2 separate regions of the Homo sapiens genome follow, and region 1 is linked to region 2. The links come from fine-mapping of genetic effects on gene expression. A gene starts in region 2. The other region holds a variant in brackets. All regions are shown on one strand. Distances are between the middles of the regions. Region 1 overlaps RNASEH2B-AS1 (RNASEH2B antisense RNA 1). Region 2 holds the start of RNASEH2B (ribonuclease H2 subunit B).

Region 1 (12,817 bases), 27 kb before region 2:
GTGTCATTATCTCTTTGTGTATCTTCGTGCCAATATCAAACTGTCTTGATTATTGAAGCCTTGCACTTTGAAATCAGGTCGTCTTAGCCCTCCAACTTTGTTCTTCTTTTTCAAAATGAATTTGCCTATTTTAGGTGCTTTTCATTCCTGTGAACTTTAGAGTTAGCTTGTCATTTCCTACAAAAACAAACAAACAAAAAAAGCCTGTTGGGATTTTGATTTGGACTGCGATGAATCTATCAATTTGGAGACAACCGATGTCTTAATAATATTAAATCTTTCACCCATGAACATGGTATTAGTAACTATTTATCTATCATCTATCTATAAACATTGTTAAAACAATCAAACACTGCTGATACATATACACGTTTTGTTGTATGCTGACCATTTCATGTAGAAACAACGATAGTGACTGAAGCAAATAATACTGATGCCTATAAAATGGCAAAGCCCTGGTTCTGTCAGTCCCCTGTGATTGGAGACAGGGCCCATCTGATCTCTGTGTAGTTGGGCTGGGTCTGAGCTTTGTCACAGCTTATTGTGATTCAGTTCATGGCTGGTTTTAATATCTGAAAAGTAGAATCAGTACTTTTCTCTCAGTGTATCTTGGAATCCTAGAGACAGTAAGACTCTGGAAAGTTCTCCAAGCTTCACACAGCCCAGCCCCCAACTTTCCAAACTGTGGGAGTTCTCTTTATGCCTTACAGCCCAGCCACCAACTTCTTGGGTTGCTGGGGCCTTTTCTTTGCCTAAACTCTGCCTCCACATCTCAGAGCCTTAAGATAGCTCTTCCTCCAGCATTCAATAGGTGGCTACAATGTACTCAGTAGAGACCTTGTGTAGGGAGGGTGGAGGTAGGGGTGAGGTGGGTGGGTAGGGTTGAGGGGATTGGAGAGTTGAAAGGGTTTTCGGGAGCATCTATTTCTCTCAGTTCTCCTGCTTTGCCTCTGGCTACTGCAGGCTGCTGCCTTGCATTTGGTGAAAGCCTCGTGCTTTCTAGGAGGGGATTTCTTTCAGCTTTCCTGCCTTACCCCCAGTGTGTAATGGGGACTGCCTTGCAATGGATGAACCTCACATGCCTTGGAGAATCCCTCTTGCTTCTCCTGCCTTGCTTCCTGTGCTCAGTGGGCTACTTTCTTGTACTTTGGGAAGACCTGGTGTACCTGGGGAGGGTATTTCTCAGTTCTCCTACCCTGGCACCAGCTTTCAGTGTACGACTCCCATCCACTCAATGGAGGCTGGGTGGGTACAGACTAGTTCTATTCCTGGGGTACCTTGTGATTCTACTCTGTTATGCCAACCCATATACAATCATCCAAAATTTGTTTAAAGATAGGCTGGTTTCTCCCTTCCTCTTCTGTGCTCCTTCCAACATGTCCCTAGGAACAAAAGCAGCTGTGGGACTCTTCTCTCTAGGAAGAGCTTGATCCTTTTGGAAATGTAGTTAATTTGAGGGATTTTTTTCTTTTTTTTTTTTTTTTTTTTGGCTCCTGGGTTCTCTGATGAGTGTGAAACATGCAAATGAAAGCAACAACAAATAAAACTGTCATTTGTAGTGCTTCTGGTCTGTTCTCATGGTTAGAGTAAGAGTGATAGACTCCTGCAAATTTCTGCATCTTATAAAAGAGTGGAGGCTTGTCCCCTCATTGGGTTTTGTACATTGTCTTTGGGCTGTAGGTTGTACCTGTCACTAAGGTACCTTAAATAAACATACACACACATTTCGTTTTTTAAAAATGGCTAAGTCAAGCCTCTAAGTTCAACATCCAAACTCCATGTGAAGGAGTTTCAACTTTCTTTGGTTTTCAAAAATCCCCTCTAAGATCTTCCATATTTGTGATGGAATTTACATAAAACATTTATTCAAAAAAAAGTTATTGAATACCTAGTATGCACTAAGGGCTGTTTCAGGACCTGGAGATGCAAGATAACAGTGCCATGGAGCTAACGTTCTAGTGGACTTCTGGAAAAACTAAGGGATCGTGACTTAGCTGTGACTGCAAGTCACATATGCAAGTTCACCACAGTTGACCTTTTGAAACAGTCATTTCAGGAGTTAAATTATAAGGAAAATTCATTCCAGACCTCTGCTGAAATAAACAATGCTTCTAAATTCTATAGAGATGTGTAGCCAGTGGGGAGCTGTCTGACTACATCAGTTTACAGACTTCTTTCAGCAAAATCAGAGATCCACATGGAAAACCAAGTATTCAGGAGCCTCTATGTATATTACAGCATGCCCTGGGGCCTCAAGCAGTCTCCTTTATGTGTAATTTTTTCATCTGTGACAGATTTAATGTGGATAATAATGCTTACTTAATAAGCAATCCAGTATAATTTAACAGAAGTTACTAATGTAAGTTCAAATGAGTTTTCATTTACAATTTTAAGAACACCATGTGTATGACAGGAAAACAGTGGGTGAAGAGCTGATCTAAAAAGCAAAAATGGTAACATCCTGAATTATGCCATAGAATCCATTTATTTTGATTAACCAGCTGAGACTATGAAAGGTGGAAAATGCATTTCATGGTAGATATACTTTAGGTATAATACTAAGAACTTAAACCAAAGGATTGTACCATTCACCTGACATATCATAAGACATGAAATCATGTTTACTTACATACTTTTAGTTTATCCATTAAAAAAAGAGTCAGCAAACTTTCTCTAAAGGTCCAGGTTGTAAATAGTTTAGGCTTTGCAGACTATAGTTTCTGTTGCAACTACTCTATTGTAGCATGAAAGCAGTCAGAGACAATAAGTAAATAAATGGGCAAGGCTGTGTTCCAATAAAACTTTATTTACAAAATCAGGCAGTAAACCAGATTTGGCCTGTGCACTGTAGTTTATCAACCCCTAGACCATCCTGGCTAACATGGTGAAACCCCATCTCTACTAAAAATACAAAAATTAGCCAGGTGTGGTGGTGGGCACCCATAGTCCCAGCTACTCGGGAGGCTGAGGCAGAAGAATCACTTGAACCCGGGAGGCAGAGGTTGCAGTGAGCCGAGATCACACCACTGCACTCCAGCCTGGCGACAGAGTGAGACTCTGTCTCAAAAAGTAACTAACTAACTAACTAAATAATAATAATAAAAATAAAATGTCATATTGGCATTGTAATTACACTCTCCAGAAGAAATTACAGGTTATGTACAAAATGTATTGCTCCATGACTGGCTACAGGCAGAATGGGTGGCTGTCTGTGTGTTATGACTCTATTAAAATATTACTGTATTATGGAAGTATTTCTAGACCTGTATGATGGAATTTTTTAGTGTGTATGATATCAATACATAATAACCCTGTGCCTGAGGGTGATTAGGGAGATAGATTCTCAATAGACTCTGATGTAGTAGGTTTCTTCTGAATGGGGAAGAATTGATTAGATTAAGATCACTTTAAAGCTGTAGTCAAGCTTGTCCAACCCATGGCCTGCAGGCTGCATGCAGCCCAGGATGGCTTTGGATGTGGCCCAACACAAATTCATAAACTTTCTTAAAACATGAGATTTTTTTGCGATTTTTTTTTTTTAGCTCATCAGCTATCAGTAGTGTTAGTGTATTTTATATGTGGTGCAAGAAAATTATTCTTCTTCCAGTGTAGCCCAGGGAAGCTGAAAGATTGGACACCCCTGATGTAGATGCTTTCAACACCATTCATTCATTCAACCAGCACAGATGTTGTTCACATCATGTTGGGAACTGGGGGTATAAAGAGAAATAGAAAATAGTGTATTTCCCCAGTGGCTCACAGTCTAGTGACAGAAAATGATGAAAACAAATAATTAGAGAAATGTAATAAATTCCGTAGTAAAAGCATGAACAAGGCACGCTGGTGTATTGCAAGGGAAGCTCTTAACTTTGCCTGCAGATATTAAAGAAGACTCTGTGGAGAAGATGACATTGGATTGGATTTTAAAGACTAAATGTTTGCCAGGCAAACAAATGGGGAAGATAATGCCAGGAGAACAGGCAATTTTATATTAGTTTCTTCACTTTCTTCTCACTCCTTGTTATCTGGCTTCTCCGTCTCCACAACTTTACTAACTCTTTTCTCCTGAAAGACTCCAATCCATAAGTGTTTCTAGGCTACGTTTTCTCCTTGACTATTCTGCTTCATTTCACGTCACTAACCACTATCTCTTCCTCTTTCCTTCTTTTGATTTCTTTTTAACAGATTCATGCTTTTGAATGATCATTCAGCTTGCAGAGTGGAGGATAGATGGTAAAAGGGAGACTGGCCAGGATTTTAATGTGTTGATCAAAGTAAGAAATGATGAGGGCCTGACCCAAAACTTGGAGTGCTAATTGAGAGGCAGCACAGATTCTGGAGTTATTAGACAAACTGGCTCCAGTGAATAGGGCCCATGAAATGAGAAGCTGGGGACAGGGGTGTGGGAGGGAAGGGTAAGGGTCATGTCTGACCCCACCAGATGTGCTGTGGGCTTGGTGTCTTGGAGCAGGGGTCCGCAACTCTTAGGCTATTGACTAGTACCGCTGGTTCACAGCCTGTTAGGAACCAGACTGCACAGCAGGAGGTGAGTGGCAGGTGAGTGAACATTACCACCTGAGTTCTGCCTCCTGTCAGATCAAGGGCAGCATTAAATTCTCAGAGGAGCATGAACCCTATTGTGAACTGCTCATGTGAGGGGTCTAGGTTGTGCTCTCATCTAATGCCTGATGATCTAATCTGACATGGAACAGTTTCATCCCAAAACCGCCACCCCCCACCCAATCCATGAAAAAATTGTCTTCCACGAAACAGGTCCCTGGTGCCAAAAAGGCTGGGGACTGCCTTGACAAAGTAATTGACTCTCTTCTTAGAGATGCTTTCACTCACTAACATAAAACAGATTCAAGGATATTTTTCTCACATTTTAAAAGTATTATTTTTAAAGTTAAAATACATATAACAAAAAAAGAACCGCCTTAACCATTTTTAAGTGTACAGTTCAGTGACATTAAGTACATTTACATTGTTGTGCACCAATCACAACCATCCATTTCCAGAACTTTTTCATCTTGCAAAACTGTAACTCTGTACCTACTAAACAATAACTCTCATTTTCCCCTACCCCTGCTCCTGGCAACCACCATTCTACCTTCTGTCTCGATGATTTCATTACTGTAATTACCTCATATAAGTGGATCCTATAGTATTTGCCCTTTTGTGACTGGTCTAGTTCACTTAGCATAATGTCCTTAAGGCTCACCCATGTTGTAGCATGTGTCATAATTTCCTTTTTAAGGCTGAATAATATTCCATTGTATAAACATACTACCTTTCGTTTATTCATTCATCTATTGATGGATACTTGGGTTGCTTCCACCATTTGGTTATTAATTTTACTCACTTTTTAAAGCTTAAAATAACATTTGTAAAATGCTTATACTATTTCAAATGAAAATATGTGCAACTTCTTAAATTTTTTGAAGTATGAATTATTATTTTTTCATTAATTATGTTAACAGTATAGAAAAAGAGAAAAGTGCCAAAAGTTGATATCAACCAGCACAAATTTTTCAAAATCTTGTTACTCTTCTTATTAACATTCTAATTATTCTTTTTGTCATTTTTTCTGCCTTTCACTTTCTTATTATGACCCAGTTAAGAGATTGGCTGTTACATATAATAGTCAAAATTTGTTATGATTATGATTTTATATACTCAGTCCTTGCTTTGTTTTACTTGAATCTTTGCCAAATTCCATGCTCACCATTACTTCTTGCATCCCAGTTCTTTCACTTTGTAATTTTCTTCTTCCATAAGTACATCCTTTAGTAGTTCTTTCAGTGAGGATCTAGTCAATTTCCCAGACTTTATTTCTCTGAAGGTCTATTTTGCCTTTACTCTTGAACAAAAAAAAAAAAAAGATCATAGCTAGACATATAGTGAAACTTCAGAACACCAAAGACAAGTCTAGAAACTTAACAACTTTAATACATACACATGTGGTATATGACAGAAGCAGCATTAGAAATTAGTAGTCTTAGCCAAGTGTGGTGGCTCACACCTGTAATTTCGGCACTTTGGGAGGCCAAGGCAGGCAGATTACTTGAGGCCAGGAGTTCAAGACCAGCCTGGCCAATATAGGGAAATCTTGTCTCTACTAAAAATTACAAAAATTAGTTGAGTGTGGTGGTGCATGCCTAGAATCCCAGCTACTTGAGAGGCTGAGGCAGGAGAATTGCTAGAACCCAGGAGGCGGAGTTTGCAGTTAGCCCAGATTGCGCCACTGAACACCAGCCTGGATGACAAAGCGAGACTCTGTCTCAAAAAAAAAAAAAGAAATTAGTAGTCTTGGATAAATGGGCTATTCAGATAGATAAAAGACCTAAATG[T/TAA]AAAAAAAAAAAAAAAAAACCAATATTGTAAAAGTTCGGAAGAAAGAAAATAATATCTTTATGACATTGGAGTGGGGAAGTACTTATTACATAAGATTTTAAAACATAAACCACAAAAAGAAAAGGAACTTGAGTATCTTAAAATTTAAAGCATACCTCTGCACAATAAATGAAATCATATAGCAAAAAAGCAAGATACAAACTAGTATATTTGCATATTACATAGCACATACAATTATTAGTATATAAACAATTCCAACAAATTAATGAGAAAATGTAATAACCTAATTTTTTAAATGAGCAAATAATATGAGTAGGCAATTTATGGGAGAAACTTGAATAACCAATAAACGTGAAAAATTGGTTAATCTCATTAGCTGTCAGATAAAACTAAAACAACATTAAGTTGACACTTTACACTCATTGGCTTGGCAAAGAAAACATTTCAATCTGACAACACAGAATATTGGTAAGAATGTGGGAGAAGAAGAGCTCTTAAAAATCATTAGTAAAGAGTAAATTTCTATAATCACTTTGACAAACAATTTAGCATCACTTAATAAAGATGATAACACACATAACATACAATCTAGGTTGTTCCACTTCTAGTTACAGATCCTGGAGAATGTCTCCAGTATGTGTAAAATGGAAATAGACACAGGCATTCATTGTACCACTTTTGTAAGTATATAAAAGGACTAACAACCTAACTTGATGAGTGACTAGATAAATAAAGTGTGGCTTACCATAGAATAGAATACCATGTAGCAGTTAGAATAAGGGTACTGGATACAAGTCAACATGGAAAAATCTTTAGAAAATGATCTGTGTTAAAAGCAAGTTGCAGAATGCCACTGCTCAGATTCCCTAGGAAACAGACCCTGTGACCATGAGAAGCATACAGAAAGTTTATTAGGGAGTGTCTTCAGGATTAACACCTGCGAGGAGCTGGGCACAGTGGCTCATGACTGTAATCCCAGCACCTTAGGAGGCTGAGGTGGGTGAATAGCTTGAGCCCAGGAGTTTGAAACAAGCCTGGCAATACTGTGCAACTACATCTCTACAAAAAATTTAAAACTAGCCATTGCATGGTGCCAAACGCTTGTGGTCCCAGCTACTTGGGAAGTTGAGGTGGGAGGATTGCTTGAGCCTGAGAGGTGGAGGTTGCAGTAAGTTGAGATTGCACCAGTACACTCCAGCCTAGGTGACAGAGAAAGACCTTGTCTCAACAACAACAACAAAACAAAACAACAAGAACAATGACAAAACAAAACCCTGCAAGGAGTGAGGAAAGCGAGACTGGCAGAGGGAGAAGTTAAACCACAGTGTAGTTGCAGCAGAGGCTTCAGTCAAGCCTGTGGGGAGCTCTGGAGCTGGGATCTCCCTTTAGAGTAGCCCTGAGTTGAGGCAAGAAGGCCAGATCTTCCTATTGAAGAAGGAATAGGAATTGTTTATTTACTAATAACTGTATGTGCTATGCAAATATACTGGTTTGTATCTTGCTTTTTCACTATATAATTTCATTTATTGTGCAGAGGTATTTTTTAAATTTTAAGATATTCAAGTTCATTTTCGTTTTGTGATTTATATTTTAAAATCTTATTTAATAAATACTTCCCTACTCCAATGTCATAAATGCCCTATCCCCTCTCCCAGTCAATGGTCAGTGGATGCTTGTAGGGAGGGTGTGTGACTTTGGGCAAGGCTTATGGCCAAAGGGAATTCTTGGTGAGAGATTCAACTGGAAGCTATTCTAAGCTTACATCTCCAAATGAGGGAGCAAGTGCCTTGTCCTGAAGATCTGGTGGGCCATGCCACAGTGTCTACCACCCAGAATGATCTGATTAGTATTAATATAATATTTGTGTCATTTTACAAACACACAAAAAGCAATACGCTAGTTATGTATATATAAATACATTAAAAATTGCAAACACTTGTATGGGAATTATACATCAATTTCACCATCATGGGTACTAATGAGGGAAAATGGAGGTAGAGACGGAGGTAGGGATGAGGTATCTGAGGCTTCAGCCATTCCTTTAATATTTATTCCAAGAAAGATGGGAGGAGAAGAGAGAGTTAAAACAAACATGACAAAATGTAAAAATCAGTTCAATATTATGATACGGTGAAGATAGGAATATGTGATTATTTTTGTACTTTTCTATGTCTGAATACTTCATTATTTAACCCTAAAAGAAAATATTAGAGAATATGTCTCAGAGAAATAAGAACTTGAGAGTCATTCTGTTAGGCCTTAAGTGGTCATTGGGAGAGCAGAGATTGACATTCTGTGAATAGGGCTCAGGGTCTTAACTGTAAAATAAATTAGATTATTTTAAGACTACCTCCAATTTGGAAGAAAGACTTTCAATTTTATGAATGTTTTGATAAAATCACAGCTGTTGGTCAATGAAAGCTTTAATTCTGTGAAGAGTGAAATAGTCCTCCAATTGGATCAGCTCTTTAGTTTTTACAATCAAGTGTCAACTTTGTTCTTAGCTGTACCTAAGGCATATAGACCACTTTCAGCAAGCATTCACTAGATTGACCAGCTATTATAAACTAGGCACTGTTCTAGGCACTCGAGATAAGACAGAAAACAAAACAGATTTTTAAAAAGTTCTACTTTCCCTGTTAAAAGAATGAAAAGACAAGTCACAGAGTGGAAGACAATATTTACAAAACACATCTGATAAAGGACTTATATCAAAAATATGAAGAGAACTCTTAAAACAGCATTAAGAAAGCAAACGATGCAACTTAAAAATGGGCAAAAGATCAAAACAGAAACTTCACTAAAGGTGGTGAGGATGTGGAGCAGCAGGAACTCTTATTCATTGCTGGTAGAAGTGCAAAATGGTACAGCCACTTTGGAAAACAGTCTAGCAGTTTCTTACAAGCTAAGCGTAGTCTTACCATACAATCCAGCAATTACACGCTTTGGTGTCTATCCAAATGAGTTGAAAATGTGTGTCCACAAAAAACCCTGCACACAAATGTTTATAGCAGCTTTATTCATCATTACCAAAACTTAGAGGCAACCAAGATGGCTTCAGTAGGTGAATGAATAACTAAATTGTGATATATCCAGACAATACAATATGATATGGTAATGAAAAGAAATTAGCTGTCAAGCCACAAAAAGATGTGGAGGAAATTTAAAGGCATATTGCTAAGTGAAAGAAGCCTGTCTGAAAAGACAACGTGCTGTATGATTCCAACTGTAAGACATTCTAGAAAAGGCAAAACTATAGAGACAGTGAAAAGATCAGAAGTTGCCAGTGGTTCAGGGATGGAGGGAAGAGGGATGAATAGGTGGAGCACAGGGGATTTTTTAGGATCACCTATGTGATCCTGTAATATGGATACATGACATTATACATTTGCCAAAACCCATAAGACTGTACGAAACAAAGAGTAAACTTACGTTAATAATAATGCATAAAGATCAGTTCATCAGTTGTAGCAAATGTACCACACTAATGCAAGATATTAATAACAAGGGAAATTTAGGGGGGTTAGGGTGAGATGGGAAAGGGCATTAAGGAAACTCTATGTACTTTCTACTCAATTTTTCTCTAAAATTAAAACTGATCTAAAAAATAAAGTCTACTAATTAAAAAAAAAGAATCCTTGTCTTTGTGGAGCATACACAATGGTTGGGGGAAATAAGTAATGTGTTTATAGAAGATGGAAATACTAATACATTCCATGGAGGAAGGAAAAAAGCAGAGAAAGCCAATAGAGAGTGAGGAGTTGCCATTTTAATTGGATGACATGGAAGGCTTCCATGAGAAAGGACATTTAAGAATCAATAAAAAACTCAAAATGCTTCCACTGGATGGGCACGCCAGACCTCATTTTCAATGAAGCATCTGTCAGAGGCTCAGGAAAACACTAGTGAAAGGGTAGATTAGATGACAACACTTAACCCTTGATCAGTGTTAACAGTACTAAAAATGGGACCACGAGACCTCATGTGCCGCCTGATGGAATGCAATCGGAAACACGCGATAGTACCTATGGAGTATTTGCCAAAATAAATGCATCTGAATCTAAGCAAGCTTCACACTCAGGCAGCAAGCTCATGAAAAATACAAAGGAACAAGTTATTAGATTAATGGGTTGAATGAGAATGCGATCAGCAAAATCTGGCATGCCGGAAGTTCTACAGGACAAATGAACCAATGTCTTCAACAAACAAAAAAACGGCTAAAAATGGGGAAGTGGGAACTTTCATAGATTAGAAAATACCTAAGAGACATTTCAACCAAATGCAATTTGTGGACTTTACTCTGTGATTTCAACAGGACTGTAAAATATATTTGAGAAAATTGGGGACATTTGAACACGGACTGCGTAATAGGTGAAATAATAGAATTAATGTTAATTTTGTCAGGTATGATAATGGAATGGTGGGTTTGTGGTTTTTAAAAATGCTCATCTGTTCGATTTATATACTACTGACTTAATTATGGATAAAACAATATGACATCAAAAAAGGTGAATAATAGATAAAGCAAGATGGACAACTGGGGCTGGACCTGTGCTTGGTGGGTCCTTGGTGTACCTGGTGGGTCCTGAGCACCACCCCGGTGGTTCTAGGTGTGCCCTGTCAAATTCCTGAAAACTCCTCTTATAAATGTGCAAATATTTATAATCAGTTTTTTTTTTTTAATAAAAAGAGTCTAACATTCTATGGCGACATTATGTGTAAAAAAATTCCTTTGGATCAGTTATGTGAAATATTTTTTAAAAACCAAGAAAAATGTTAAAAATTGTTGAATTTGAATATTGTGTCAATGGGGTTCATTATACTGTCTTTCTACTTTTGGATGTTTGAGAATTTCCTTAATAGAACAATTTTGAAAGTCTAGGAATACTAAGAGATATTAGAAAATTAAAAGCAACAGTCTAAGACTGATTTTCAAGGTGTTTTGTTTTGGGTTAAAGACAATTTCTTTTAAAAGGCAATTATGGACAAGTCAAATATGCACAACAGATACATTTGGAACTACCTGACTGTGATGGAGTCACTCTTCTCTCCTCTGCCCCCAGAGATACAGCACATACAGTTTGAAGTTAGTTCAATTAAGGTAACAATTTTCATTGTCTACTAAGTCAACGACTCTCGGTCTTTTGGAATATGCTGGATGCTTTCTAGTGTTTACTAGAATACTTGAGTAGTAAATACTTTCTAGTATTTACTAGAACTTGGAGTAGCACAATTCAAAGGATTCAGTGAATTAAGAATATACCAATCAACAATAATTGCACTACAGCTGACTAACAATATCTCCTGGTATCCATAAAAGACATTGCCAATGAATACACTATTTGGTTTCCCTATCACAGTGTCACAGTGTCAAACAGTTTGTACTCAAACAACTTGAGTACAATTCTTTACTGTTCTGACTGCCTGTCTCTTATGTTTATGGCAAAGTCCCAGTGTGTTCCAGTCATTTCTTACTTTCCCTGTTACTTGACATTACCTCTTTCTCAGTGACTCTCTTCAACACAGCGTCACATAACATGATCATTCCAGTCATCTACACTGAACAAAAAGTTCAAAATGGGAGCAAACATAACCTTTACACATTGATAAAAATATGGTATCATTAATAGTCCATTAATTGGATGTTATGCTAATAGGTTTGATCATCTGAAAGCTATATACCTGGATTTATCTCCCCAGATACACCTTATTTATCATCCTAAATACACCATGAAGACCTAAAAGAAATATGAGGTAATATGCTCTAAATATAATTTTTGATATAAGATATGACAGAATAAAAATTGTTTGCATCTTTTTTGAAAATCACTATGGAAGATGTTGTCCACTGAATGACTCCTGTAAACCTATTTAAGTATCATAGTAGAGTTTACACATAGGAAAATGATTGCTTCCTTTTGTTTATAAATGATCTGTTTCTCTATGTTACCTTGACTTTCACATACGTGAGAGCTAAACTGAAGCTACCATAATTAATTTAGGTTCTCTTACACAACGAACCCTGCTCATTTCCATCCCATCCAGCTTTATTTAATGATTCTATTGATGTATCTGTTGTGGACATATTTTATTTTGTCCCCCCAGCCCAAACACTCCCTCTTCTGATAGCAGCAGCACCTTCTTTTAGATAAACCCTTCTCCCCACCTGTCCCAACTCCAACCTTGTCGTTTTAGTAATGCAGTCAACCTCTGCCTTCTGCCACTCTCAGACCATTGCCATGGTCTTTGCTGAAGGCCAGAGTCTTTGACCAGCATTATTTCAAATTGAAATCAAGGAACTAATGAAGGAGGCATCTTCTTGACCAGTGATAAGCCAGATGACCACAACCTCCAAGGTGTGAAAGAATGTGACACAGAAAGACAGACCAGAGTCTGAGACAGCTACTTTCAGCACCTGGTACTATTTCCTCCCAAACCAGATACATCCCTGCCCATTCAAGGGTTA
Region 2 (12,817 bases):
GGGGAAACTATAGTGAGAATAAAGTTGTCATTGGTAAAGAAGGAGCACTCATTTTGGCCAAGAGATAGGATGTTTGGTACTTCATGGGTGGCAAAGTGACTTGCTTTTGTCTGTGCTCACACAAAATTATGAATGGTCTTATTTAATCATGGTCTCAAAGTAGCCCGGTCAGAGGCTGGTTTTCTGTGAGATGGTTCATGTCTAATGGGAGAATCGCAGGGTCTGCCTATGAGAGCCAGGCCAGCTTCTGGGTGTCAGGTGCTGCCCTTTTTCCTTCCTCAATAGCTTCAGTCATTCTTATGCTACGATGGGCAGATCTCACAAGTTTATGTGTGCCTTTTTTTCACACTGCCAAGTACAGTTCAGTTTTAGGTTGGGTTGGTTACGAGAGAACAGAAAGGGAATATTCTTCCCAGAAAGAATGATTCAGTGCTACTCATACTCACTGGTCCCCTTTCTACATAGTTGATGCTCTCGAGAGCGGACTTTTCTCCCAATCTGATGCTTCAGGATGATGGTGCTTTCTCTATTGTCACTCAATGAGCATTTGATGGCAGGAAAATTTGGTAGAAGAGAACAACTTTTTCTCCTGAGAAAAATGATGATAAACATGGATTTTAATTTTAATTTTGTTTTGAAAGAAGCAATCTTACAGATTTTTAATAATATAGAGGAGAAAATATTCTTCCACTACCTTTAATACAATGTCTGTCTGCTCTAATTACCACTAAGCATTGCTGAAGGTTATTTGGCACTGAATTCTTCTCCCGTGCCCCACCCAGTTTTTTTTTTCTTTTTTCTCTTTTTACTAAAAACCAAACATCTATTGTTTCCAGCATTTAGAAGAGTCTCAAATTTTCTACTCAAGAGGTGTTAAGTTGCTGCTCCCTTCTTATTCTTTGTACAGAACTAGTACAGACTAGTACTGCAAGTAATTCACAGACTGTTTTATGATATACTAGATGTAATCAATTTGTTTTGATTTATAAAATTGGGAATACCACAAGCCACGACAGCTTAGCTATCCGCATAAATATTTACTCAAAAAATATTTGCTGAGCACATGCTATGTTTCCATATTATTTTGTCCCAGGCATGGGGACACCAGGGAGGGAAGGAAGGTGAAGAGCCCAGTCTCTGGAGTCCTAAGGCCTGGGTTGGAATTCCTGCTCAGCCACTTGCTAGTCATGTCATCATAGGCAGGTACTTGATCTCTCTCGACTCTACATTCTTCCTCTGTAAAATGTGGGTGACTAAATAATACTTACCCTTAATGCTGTGGGAGGGCTGAAAGAGGTCATTCGAGTTAACTGCTTAGTGCAGTGCTCAGCATAGTTAATACTCAGTGAAGCCATTGTTATTTTTTGACAAGATAGTGGTGAATTACTAGATGCTATTCTTCCCTCAAGGAACTGACTGGTTCCTCTCACTGGTGAAATTGGAGGCATCTCACTTATTCTTGGGAAGAGTATTAGGAGGCAGGAAGAGAAGGCACTTAGTAAGACCTGATGGATGAGTGAGAGTTGTCCTGGCAGTGGTAAAGGGTAAGGGAGAAGGGAAGGAATGATGCTTGTGGAGAACAGGATGGTCTCAGCATTGGGGACACAATACCAAGTGCTAGATGTGACAGAGAAGAGAACCACAGGCAGTTCCTTGTGGCCACACTGTGGACTGGGTGGAGAGCGACATAGGTGGTGGGAACTGTAGCTGGGGAGTCCAGCCAGGACCGGATCTCAAGGGCCATGTGTTCAAAGCTTAGCACCTTAGACTTTACCTTGAAGACAACAGGGATCTGGAGTCAGCCTATCAGTAATGGTATCCTTTTCAAAAAGGTACTTACATAATTTTTTTTAATGATAAAGGAAATTATTTACAGAAAGGGCAGAGTTCATTGTTTTCTCATTCACAGAGTATAGCAACCGTTACCCGTACGAGCCTGGGCCTCTCATTTAATTTCTCCTGCCCCTCATTCCTTACCCATGCTTTCTCCCATTCCTCTCCATATTAAAGACACCCATATTTTATTTAAGTCCCAGAGTATATGTGCAGGATGTGCAGGTTTGTTCCATAGGTAAACGTGTGCCATGGCAGTTTGCTTCACCTATCACCCCATCACCTAAGCATTAAACTCAGTATGCATTAGCTCTTTTCTCTAATGATCTCCTCCCCGACCACCCTCCGCTTACAGGCCCCAGTGTGTGTTGTTCCCCTCCCTGTGTCCATGTGTTCTCATTGTTCAGCTCCCACTTATAAGTTAGAACATGCGGTGTTTGGTTTTCTGCGTCTGCATTCGTTTGCTGAGGATAATGACCTCCAGCTTCATCCATGTCTCTGCAAAGTACATGATCTCATTCCTTTTTATGGCTGCATGGTATTCTGTGGTGTATGTGTACATTTTCTTTATCCAGTCTATCATCGATGGGCATTTGGGTTGATTCCATGTCTTTGCTATTGTGAATAGTGCTGCAATGAACATACACATGCATGTATCTTTATAATAAAATGATTTATATTCCTTTAGGTATATACCCAGTAATGGGATCGCTGAGTCAAATGGTATTTCCAGCTCTAAATCTTTGAGGAATCACCACACTGTCTTCCACAATGGTTGAACTAATTTACATTCCCACCAACAGTGTAAAAGAGTTCCTATTTCTCCCCAGTCTTGCCAGTATCTGTTGTTTCTTTTTTTTTTTTTTTTTTTTTGAGACGGAGTTTTGCTCTCGTTGCCCAGGCTGGAGTGCAATAGCGCGATCTTGGCTCACTGCAACCTCTGCCTCCCAGGTTCAAGCAATTCTCCTGCCTCAGCCTCCCGAGTAGCTGGGATTACAGACACGCACCAACACGCCTGGCTAATATTTTTTGTATTTTTAGTAGAGATGGGGTTTCTCCATGTTGGTCAGGCTGGTCTTGAACTCCTGACCTCAGGTGATCCGCCCACCTCGGCCTCCCAAAGTGCTGGGATTACAGGCGTGATCCACCGTGCCCGGCCTCATCTGTTGTTTCTTGACTTTTTAATAACCACCATTTTGACTGCCATGAGATGGTATATCATTGTGGTTTTGATTTCCATTTCTCTAATGATCAGTGATGTTGAACTTTTTTCATATGTTTGTTGGCCACATGTATGTAAAGACACCCATTTCTTTATGTGCTTGACATGGCCTTAAATATGCATGTATCCTTGTAAATTACATCGTGTTGTTCTTTGTGCCTTTTAAATTTACCTACATGGTATTCTGCTAAAAATAATTTCCTGCATCTAAATTTTTTTCTTTAGATACAAAGCATCTGTTTGTATATGTACACCAATCACTGTGTCAAACTGCTGTATACATAGCCCATATACAATACACATGGTAGCATTATTTATAATAACAGTTTGAAATAACCTAAATACTGCACACTAGGGAATGGATAACTAACCCTAGTACACCAGCTGTGTTAAATATCATGCCTTCATTAACAATGATACTTCTCGATATGAAGGGGCACATGCTTATGACAATGTTAAGTGAGAAAAGCAGACAAAACAGTCTAAATTGTGACAACAACCACAAAAATATACATTAATACAGCCAAGGGCTAGAAAGGATCAGAGAAAAATGAAACAGGTATGTATGTCTGAGCAAGGGAATCATGGGTAACATTTCTCATGTACAGTAGCTCCCCCTATTCGAAGTTTCGCTTTCCAAGGTGTCAGTTACCCCCAGTCGAACTTGGTCCAAAAATATTACACGAAAAATTCCAGAAACAATTCGTAAGTTTTAAATTGTACAGTGTTCTGAGTGGTGTGAAGAAATCTTGCACCATCCAGCTTCGTCCTGCAAAGGACCTGAATTCTACCTTTGTCCAGCGGATCCACACTGCAGAAGGTCCCCTCCTTATGAGTCACTTAGTAGCTGCAAGAGTAGTGATGCTGGCATACTGTGAGAATTGTTCTATTTTATTATTATTGTTGTTCATCTCTTACTGGGCCTAATTTTCAAATTAAACTTTATCACAGATATACATGCAAAGGAAAAAACAGTATATTAGGGTTTGGTACTATTTGCGGTTTTAGGCCTTCACTGGGGGTTTTGGATCCCATCCTACAGGAATAATGGGGTGCTCCTGTAGCTGTTAGTAAGACGATGGTGTGCCTGGGGATTTGTGCTATACACCACAGCATCTTCTACAGTCGTTTTGGGGGAGAGGGAAGATCAGAGCAGTACCAATCTGCTGCTCCTTGCCCCAAAACTGGCAAGAGGCGCCTTTCCTCAGCCAGAAAGGCCTCTTCTCCACCAGCTGTGTCCTGCAATCAACTGCAGCTGTATTGGTCTCACCCCATGGGAAACAGGTTTGAAGTTAAAAACCTTTTCAGAGGGCCGAGATAAATTTAGTGCTGCTAAATTTAACTATCTTCAAGATTAAACATGAAAAGCAAAGTGCATGAGTTATGTATATTATTCTTTCAATTGTGCAAAAATAAGACATTAACTTGTTTTTGCATGGAAAAATTCTGCAAGAATAGAGAAGAAATGTTAACAGTTACCCCTGGGATCTGGGATAAAAGAGATACATCATGCTTTTCTTTAAAAAAAAAAAAAATAGGTTTTTGTGGATTTTTTTGTTTTTGTTTTTTTTGACAGAGTCCAGCTCTGTAGCCCAGGCCAGAGTGCAGTGGTGGGATCTCGGTTCACTGCAACCTCCATCTCCTGGGTTCAAGTGATTCTTGTGCCTCAGCCTCCGTAGTAGCTGGGATTACAGATGTGCACCACCACACCCAGCTAATTTTTGTATTTTCAGTAGAGACGGAGTTTCACCTTGTTGGTCAGGCTGGTCTCCAGCTCCTGACCTCAGGCGATCCGCCCGCCTCGGCCTCCCAAAGTGCTGGGATTACAGGCCTGAGCCACTGCGCCTGGCCCGTGCTTTTCTCTAAAGTATGAAAGGAATATGTACTTTCTTCTTAAAAACCATGTACCAAACAACACTTTTCAATTAAAATGTTATTTTTAAAAGTTTAAATCCCCAAATTTCATGGCTCTAACTTTTTAAACATCACTTTTTAAATAAATGTCTAAGTTTTTAACTCAGTATACAGCGTTCTCCAAAACAACAAATTCATATTCTGAGCCCAAAACTGTGCACCTCTTTTAGTGATGAGGACGGAGTCCAAATTGAGGACATCCCTTGTAGCTCACAATGCACACATATTCTCACATCAATAGCAACACAGAATGCAACTGATGACCAATATATATTCACAAATAATTGAGGACCATGGCTAAGAGTTGCATTCGGATTCCGATGTGACTGCTATTGTCCTTAACACGGACTAGCTCCAGGTGAGTCCCCCGGCCCCGGGGGTGTGGCGGGCGTCACCCGTTGTCCGGGCACACACCCCGCAGACCCAATCCTAGCCCGCTGGCTAGACCATGGAGGGCCGCTGGGTGCAGCCACAGAGCGCGGGGCCCCGGCGACCCCGCCCCGCTCCGCGTCACTCGGCGCCCTGCGGCGCGCGATGAGCACCTACCACTAGCGGAGCCGCGAGGGAGAGGCCGCGGCCCCTTCCCGTTGCCTGCGGCCACCGGCCGGCATTCAGAGCCCCTCGCCTGGCGCTAAATTTAAAAACGTAACACGAGCAGCAGGCTGGTCTCGGAAACGAAACGAAATTCGGTCCCTGGGCCTCCTCCCGGGCGCTGCCGGTCCCTCAGCGCGCCGCGCCACCCGGAACAGACCCTTCTCCCGCCATTTTCGGCGGGGCTGGGAGACTGAGGCCCGCGGCGCTGAGCCTGCGGCGCCCCGGAAGAGGCGGGCGGCATGGCCGCTGGCGTGGACTGCGGGGACGGGGTTGGCGCCCGGCAGCACGTGTTCCTGGTTTCAGGTAAACACGCGCGCCCGGGCGGCGGGGTCGGCCCAAGAACTGGCGGAGCGGCCCGCGACCCCGGGCGCGCCGCCCCCCACCCCGGTGGCTCCCACTACCCGGCCCGGCGCGGGATGGGATTCTCTCTGGGACAGCTGGCCCCGCATTTTGGTCACACGTCATAGCAAGCCGCGGTTTTCAAACCCGGAAGCGCCGAAAAGGACCGAGCGTGTTTCCCGGGCCCTGATCCCCGGTGGCTCGGGTGGGAGGGTGGAAGCCGACTCAGCCTGAGGGGAGCCACGCGGGTTCGCGGTCACCGGTGCGCTGCGGGCCCCGGAGGTTTCTGCCCTTGGTGTCCCCTACCTGGCAGCTGGCCCTGCTTCTGTGATCCTACTGGGTTGGAACCAGGGATCCAGTAGGCTCGAAGTGGCCTCAGACGGTGCGCAGTTTTAAGAAAGCAAAGGGACAGGCCTGCAGTGGCGAGGCAGGAGGGAAGCGGGATGGGAGTCGCGGTTAGGCCAAGGGTAGTTCAAAGCGATTCAGCAGGATGATGACCACAGGAGTGCTGGAGCCGGGCCTTTCAGCCCCCGTGTGGATGATGACCGGCCATCCAGGACATGCGAGGGCTTGGGACAGTGGACAGCCAGTGCCACACAAGGAAGGACCGATTAAATGACACAGTTAAAGGAATTTGGCCTAGGGAGTGCAAGCCAGAAAGGTTTGGTCTTTTTATATATGTAACATTGGAAAAAAGGAACATCTCCTGTTCCCTGTATTAAGTTTTGACTTTAGCTCAGCAAATGCAGTGTTTGTGGCAGTAAATATACTCTGATAACAATATTCTTTCCCAGGAATTTAGAGTTTTATGATGGTTATTGAAAATGTTTACATGACAGGCTGTCAATAATATTTTTTGCCTCTAAAAATAAAACATACATAAAGTGTACGGATTTTAAGTATGCAACTCACTGAACTTTTCATACGTATACACCACCCTAGTAACCATCCCCCAGTTCAAGATGTAGACTGTTTCCAATAACGCCTCATGCCTGTTCCTAGATAGCCCCAGGAACCTCTATGCTGACCTCTGTCACCAGAGATTAGTTTTGCCTGTTTGAATAAGAGTGTACCCTTTGTGTCTGGCTTCTTTCACTCTGAAAGATTCATCCTTGTTGTGAAATTCATTCATGTTGTAGCAGTTGTTTGGTTGGTTGGTTAGTTTTTTCATTGCTGCTTCTGTTTAATTGTATGAGTATCCATACTATGTATCTCTACTGTGGATGGACATTTGGGTTGTTTCCAGTTTGCAACTATTACAAGTTACACTTCTCAGAGCATTCCTTTAGGCGGCTTTTGGTAGACATGGGCACTCATATCTCTAGGGTGTATACCCTGGAGTGGAATGGCTGGTTCTAGTACTTGTGTGTAGAGCTGTAGTTGACAATGTTAAATGGTTTTCCAAAGTGGTTATACTGATTTATATTCCCACAAGCAGTGTATGAGAGTTCCCATTGCTGCACATCCTCGGTAAAAACGTTTGGGTGGTAAAACAGCTAATGCAAAATTCAGGGTTTTGACAGAATCTCGCAAAGGGCTACCCGTATACATGCTTTTCATTAGAAAAATCATCCTTTCTTCTCACTTCGTCACATCAAGACAATTAGATTTTCAGAGTAGGAACTCTAATCATTCTTTCAGAATCAAGTGCATTATTGTTATTTCAGATATACACAATAGCTGATGATAATTTGAGCTTCTTATTTTGTTGTTCTGTTTAATCAGTATTGACATCGTCATTTTATACGTGTGTTTGTGTCCTTGTATTAAACACAAAACCCTCAAAAGAATTAAATATTGATTGTATCCCTGAAAATTGTAGGTTTTAATATATCTACTGCTGGGTTGTGGGAAGAGTTTCAGTTGAGTTTCTGTTCAGAGCTGAGATCTACTGTGACCTTTTAAGGCATTGGGGGAGGCTGAGCAGCTGTTGGAACTGCTAGAAAGAGCTGTGTGGTCAGGGGGGCAGGAACTCTTAACAGTTAAAAACTTGAGCTACCAGCTCCTGCAATTCTTCCTTCTGGCCTTTAGCGCCACCTGCAGGCTCTGAGGGTACAACAAGGTTTGACAGCGACTGCAGTGCAACACTAGTTCTCAAACTTGAGGGCATCATTTACCTGGGGAGCTGGGCCTCAGTTCCCAGAGGTGCTGGTTCAGTAGGTCCTGGGCTGGGGCCAGAGAATGTGCATTGGTAACAAGTTCCCAAGAGATACTGATGCTGCTGGTCCGGAAACCACTGCCCCCACCCCAGGAACCACTGCAGTAAAGACTTTGGGAACTAGATTGGGATATAAGAATGACAAGCCTCATGTTTGGCCCTCTTTGTGGTGGGCCAGAATTTATATGGTCAAGGAAGTGCATGTAAGTGCAGAGTGTGAGGCTCATCTTCCCAGATGTAGTTGTCGTCTTTTCCAGAAGATGAGAAATCAGCCTGCTTAGTTACCCATTCGGGAGTTGGAAACGATATGCCCTTGGCTGAGGGAGCACCATACTCCAGTAAAGCTGGGCCCTTAATAAAGAAAACAAAGATTATTAAACATTTTTCAAAAGTATTTGGCGGAGGCGGCTTGTATTCGGTTTTAGAAAACTTGGGATCTGAAGAACTTACTTTGTGTACTGAAAAGTGAGCACATGAACCCACAGGCCAACAGAACTTTAAAGGGATTTATCCGTGAGACAAGGGTAAAGATGCCTAACCTTGCAATGATACTTTTTTCCAACATTTAATTCATGCTGTTCATCGAGTTGCCTGCCACAGCACTGTGTTATATCTTGAAGGATATATTTAAATGTTTGATTTAGGTATCTTTGCCTCTAGTTTTCAGTTTGTTTGGAGAAGCTGGCTATCTCAGATAAACAAATCTGGAACTTGGAAGAGATACTGTGAGATATGCAGACTTGGGACGTTGGTTTTCATAGGCTGGTGAAGACAGAACCATTTCCCATTTCAGCAAGGCAAGCATTTCTTTTAGTTTGGGATGGTCTTAAATGTTTCTGTAAAATGGCCTGGGAATACTAGCCTGTTTGCAGTTTTAATTTCTATAAGAGGCCATTACTTTACTTTTTGGAAAGTAGTATAAGTTTCCATCCCTCTTTTTCTGCCCTAAAAGTAAATGTTTGAGTCATATTTTTAATGTTTTTCTTAAGTCCATTTTTCTTGTTAATGCTACTAAGTTGGGATGTACCCAGGTGTGAGAGGTCACCTGATTCATTGCGTTTAGAAGACTGCATTTATTGCTGTTGGGGGCTGAACAATTAATTGGGTTCATCTCCAAGGAAATGTTAATTGGGAAACCCTAACATTGTGTATTGAAAAAAAAAAAAAGAAGAAAAATCATTTCAGGCCTGTTAAAACAAAACTCATTTGGGTTCACTTAGGCTGATTAAAATATTCCTTAATCAGCCCCCTGATTAAACAGTCCTGAGGTGAAACTGCACCTCAACTCGAATTTTCAGTTAGAGACAAGTTTTGCAATAAAGTTATCCCCCTTTATTTCATGAATATACATGTTAAAAAGTATTTTAGGAAAGATTGCACTTATTATTTATTTCTCCACAGAAAGCAGTTTCATGGAGGTAGAGGATGGGTTGCTTTTTGGGAGATAAGAATCCCTGTCTACCTTAGACATTTCAAATACAATAACAGCTTTTTATGTGAGGCATCGTGATAATCACAAATGATTATACCAGAGCTATCTTTCCAATTGGAATGCAAAAATAGATGTGGAAGGATTGTATAAATTCATGCATTAGAACTATGTTCTAATTAAAGGATTTAAAAAATAAATTTAAAAGGAAAAACTAATTTTCTTATTTAATGATGGAGAAAATTTATATTAATGTTATTTCTGATTACAGTCTTGAAGATTTTTTTTTTTTTTTTTTGGTCCACCAACTGGCATAATTGTAGCTTTTTATAAGTCCAAAGAAATGCCTCTTGTTTTGGGGGAGGAAAAAAAGTAAAGGTTTAAAGTGTATGGCAAAGGAAGAACTACTATAGATTTAACTGACTTTTCAGTGACACTAAAAAACACTCTTTTCCCTTCTTTACCTAATGGCTCATGGTTAATCTCAGAAGAAAAAGTTAAGCAGGATTTTTGTTCTTTGTCAAAACGGTATGTATGTATATGTTTGTGTTTAGAAATATACGTGAGGGCCGAAAGCTTCCTTATTTTCAGAAGAGATGAACTTCACTTGGCACATGATAGAGAACCTGGCCAATTCAAGTGCTGATTTTAGACAACCTCGGAATAATTAAGCTCAGCTTTTTGGAAGATGTGTCATTTACCGAATAGTCTACTGCAGGCAGTCAGCAGTGTAGGAGTCTCAGAGTTTTCCAGCATAGAGCGTGTTTAACATTTTCCACATGAATCTCAGTCTGGCTTTGTTTTTGCAAAATGTTTTTCGGTGGGACCCGACTGACCTTTCTCAGATGGCCACTGGATCTGCTCCCCTTGCTATCTATCTGAGCACGTTCTGAAGTGGATGGACTTCAGTTGCCAGTTGGTGTAATCAGGCTGTTTCCAGAGTCTGATCTTGTCCCTTTAGTAACTGTTCCAAAATACTTGGGACATTTATAAGTAAGAACTCATGACTCCCACATATTTATCCTCCAGGTCAGAAAAAAATTCATAAAAGGAAAGCAAGCAGTGTTCATGATTTTTTATTTGAGTAACAGAATAGGGACTGCATGGATTCTCCCACATCCTCTGAGACTGTGATTTTAAAAAACAAACAACTCAGTCAGTGTGCTCCAAAGCCTGGCTATAATAACACAGACTTAAAAGCTAGATTTATGCTATTTATTAGCTCTGTGTCATTGGGTGGTTTACTTCCTCACTATAAAGCCTCACTTTTGTCATCTCCACAGTGGGGAGAAGAGTACCAGTCTCATGGGGTTGTTATCTGTGGTTTGAGTTACTCATAAGCTTTCTTACACCTCAAGCTTTTAGCCCTGGGCCTGGGACAGAGTAGATATTTCAATAAATATTTACTGAACGAATAAAAGTCTCACATTCCATTTCTTCCTGCAATGTCTTTGCTTATTCTGCTTTTTCCTCCCCTTCTACTTCTATCCAAATTCTACCCTTTCCTCAAGGTTCCATTCAACTTTATTTTCCACAAAGCTAAGCCATTTGCTCCAGCTCAGCTTCTCCGTCTTGACTTTGTGTCTGCCTGGAATCCTGCCTGCTCTTCACTTTATCTACCTGGCAAATTCCTACTTATCCTTTAAACCCAGCTCAAGTATCACCTCTACCAGGAAGCCTTCCCATGGGTCTCTCCTCTTGTTACTGCCCAGGTTCGTGGTACCTCTTTGACCACCTACACATTTCATCATGATTATTCATTTAAGTGCCATTTTTATATAAATATGTATTGAACACCTAATACATGCCAGGAGCTAGAGAGAGTCCAAGTGTGTTTTCCCTGAGTGGCCATTTCGCTTCTCAGTGTGGGCACCTCAGCCTTCTGCTTCAGAGCACAACCTCCAAACAGTAGAGCATGTCACGTAGGATTTCCAGGCCTTTATTCAGAGCTACCTTTATGACTTCCTTGTCTAAGGATGACTGTTTGCTAAAGCAGAATGGGCCACCCCGTGGCAAGGGGATGTAAGGGATTTGGGGCTGCATGTTCTAGTCCCTGTTTCATTATCTGTCCCCGAAACAGCTAAGCTGGAGGCTGGCTTACTCCTCCGAGGGCCTAGGTCTCAACATTTGGTAAGGCTCTCCTGCATGATTGGCTACCTTTGCCTGATTGTTTTTAAAGATTTTTTGTTATTGTTGTTGCCTTTTAACCTTCTTTTGACCAGTTAACTCTACATTTACACGTTTTTCTCACAGTGGTTTTTTTTTTTGATAACTTTAAATAATTAGAATAATAATATTTACCCAGTATAGAAATTCTAGTAATATGGGGAAAAAAATAAAGAATAAAATAATTTGTCCATCATCCTCACCCAAAATAAAAATTTTGGAGATATTTCTTTCCAGTTTTTTCATGTTGTTTACATTACAAAATGAATTCCAATCTTCTTAAATTTTTTTTTCTTATTTTTCTATTTTTGCCTTTATTTCATTGTTTACCCTTACTACTTATTTAATGTAACACTAAAACACTCAGGGAGATTGGGGTTACATAAAAGTTTATATGGTGCTGTTCTACATAAAATTGGAGAAAGTTCAGTTGATTTAATAGAGGTAGGGGCTGTTTTTTTCCTCTTAATTTTGATAAGGACAGAAACTCACACAGTGATATGAAACAAGTTGACAAAGAGAATTTGTATTTTAGGCTTTGAACATTGAAGAGGTGTAATACTTATTGCTTCAGACAGTAGACAGTACATATTTGGAATGGGTTATCTTTGAAAGTGGATAAAGATTGAAAATACAAATAGGTGCAAAAGAGGTAAAGATACATTTACAGAGCTGTATTGGACCCAATGGCAAACTAGGATGTTTCAAAAGCCATTCAAAGCAGGTTACATTTTTGAGGACAACCATAGCCTCCTGCAAACATCCCTTGGTGTGCTTTCCTGAAACCGGATACTGGTTTGAATAGCCTGTGAGTCTGCCTTAGTATGGAAATTGCCATTTTTTAATGTGGGGTCAGTGCACCTGGGTTGTGTGTTACAAAATCAAACATGAACTTCTTTGGGAGTTCCTTAGCAGGTTCACATCCTCCCAGGAAGGAGCAGGGGTGGTGGAGAGCATAGGACATCTGGCCCTAGGGTGTTGCAGCAGCAGGAGTCCAGGGTTTCTGCCTCTCTGAGTGTTAACTTCCTCTTCTCAAACTAACTTCCTGCATTTAGTGAAAAACTGGTTTCACGTGATTCCCAAGCTGCAGATCCCCCCAGTGTCTGCTGGGAGGGGTCTCTCCTCTTAGTTCCAGTTTGAAACCTTTCAAAACAGCCTTCTG

Evidence for each region. PIP is the estimated chance that this variant, and not a neighbour inherited with it, causes the effect.
Region 1: its variant is the best candidate, but not a certain one, in a credible set for the expression of RNASEH2B in monocytes after LPS (Fairfax 2014, PIP 0.50).

Annotation. Positions count from the first base shown.
Region 1 is chr13:50,876,786-50,889,602 of GRCh38, forward strand. It overlaps RNASEH2B-AS1 (RNASEH2B antisense RNA 1), which reads right to left. Exons shown (of 3, transcript NR_046552.1): 3 at 5,593-5,860. Among named protein-coding and RNA genes, the nearest start is that of RNASEH2B, 27 kb to the right of the region's middle. The variant T/TAA (reference allele first, on the strand shown) is at 6,351.
Region 2 is chr13:50,904,275-50,917,091 of GRCh38, forward strand. It overlaps RNASEH2B (ribonuclease H2 subunit B), which reads left to right and starts at 5,517. Exons shown (of 11, transcript NM_024570.4): 1 at 5,517-5,866. The coding sequence starts at 5,803. It overlaps RNASEH2B-AS1 (RNASEH2B antisense RNA 1), which reads right to left and starts at 6,438. Exons shown (of 3, transcript NR_046552.1): 1 at 6,209-6,438. RefSeq lists silencers at 5,332-5,761, 5,772-6,011, 6,222-6,271 and an enhancer at 10,629-10,718.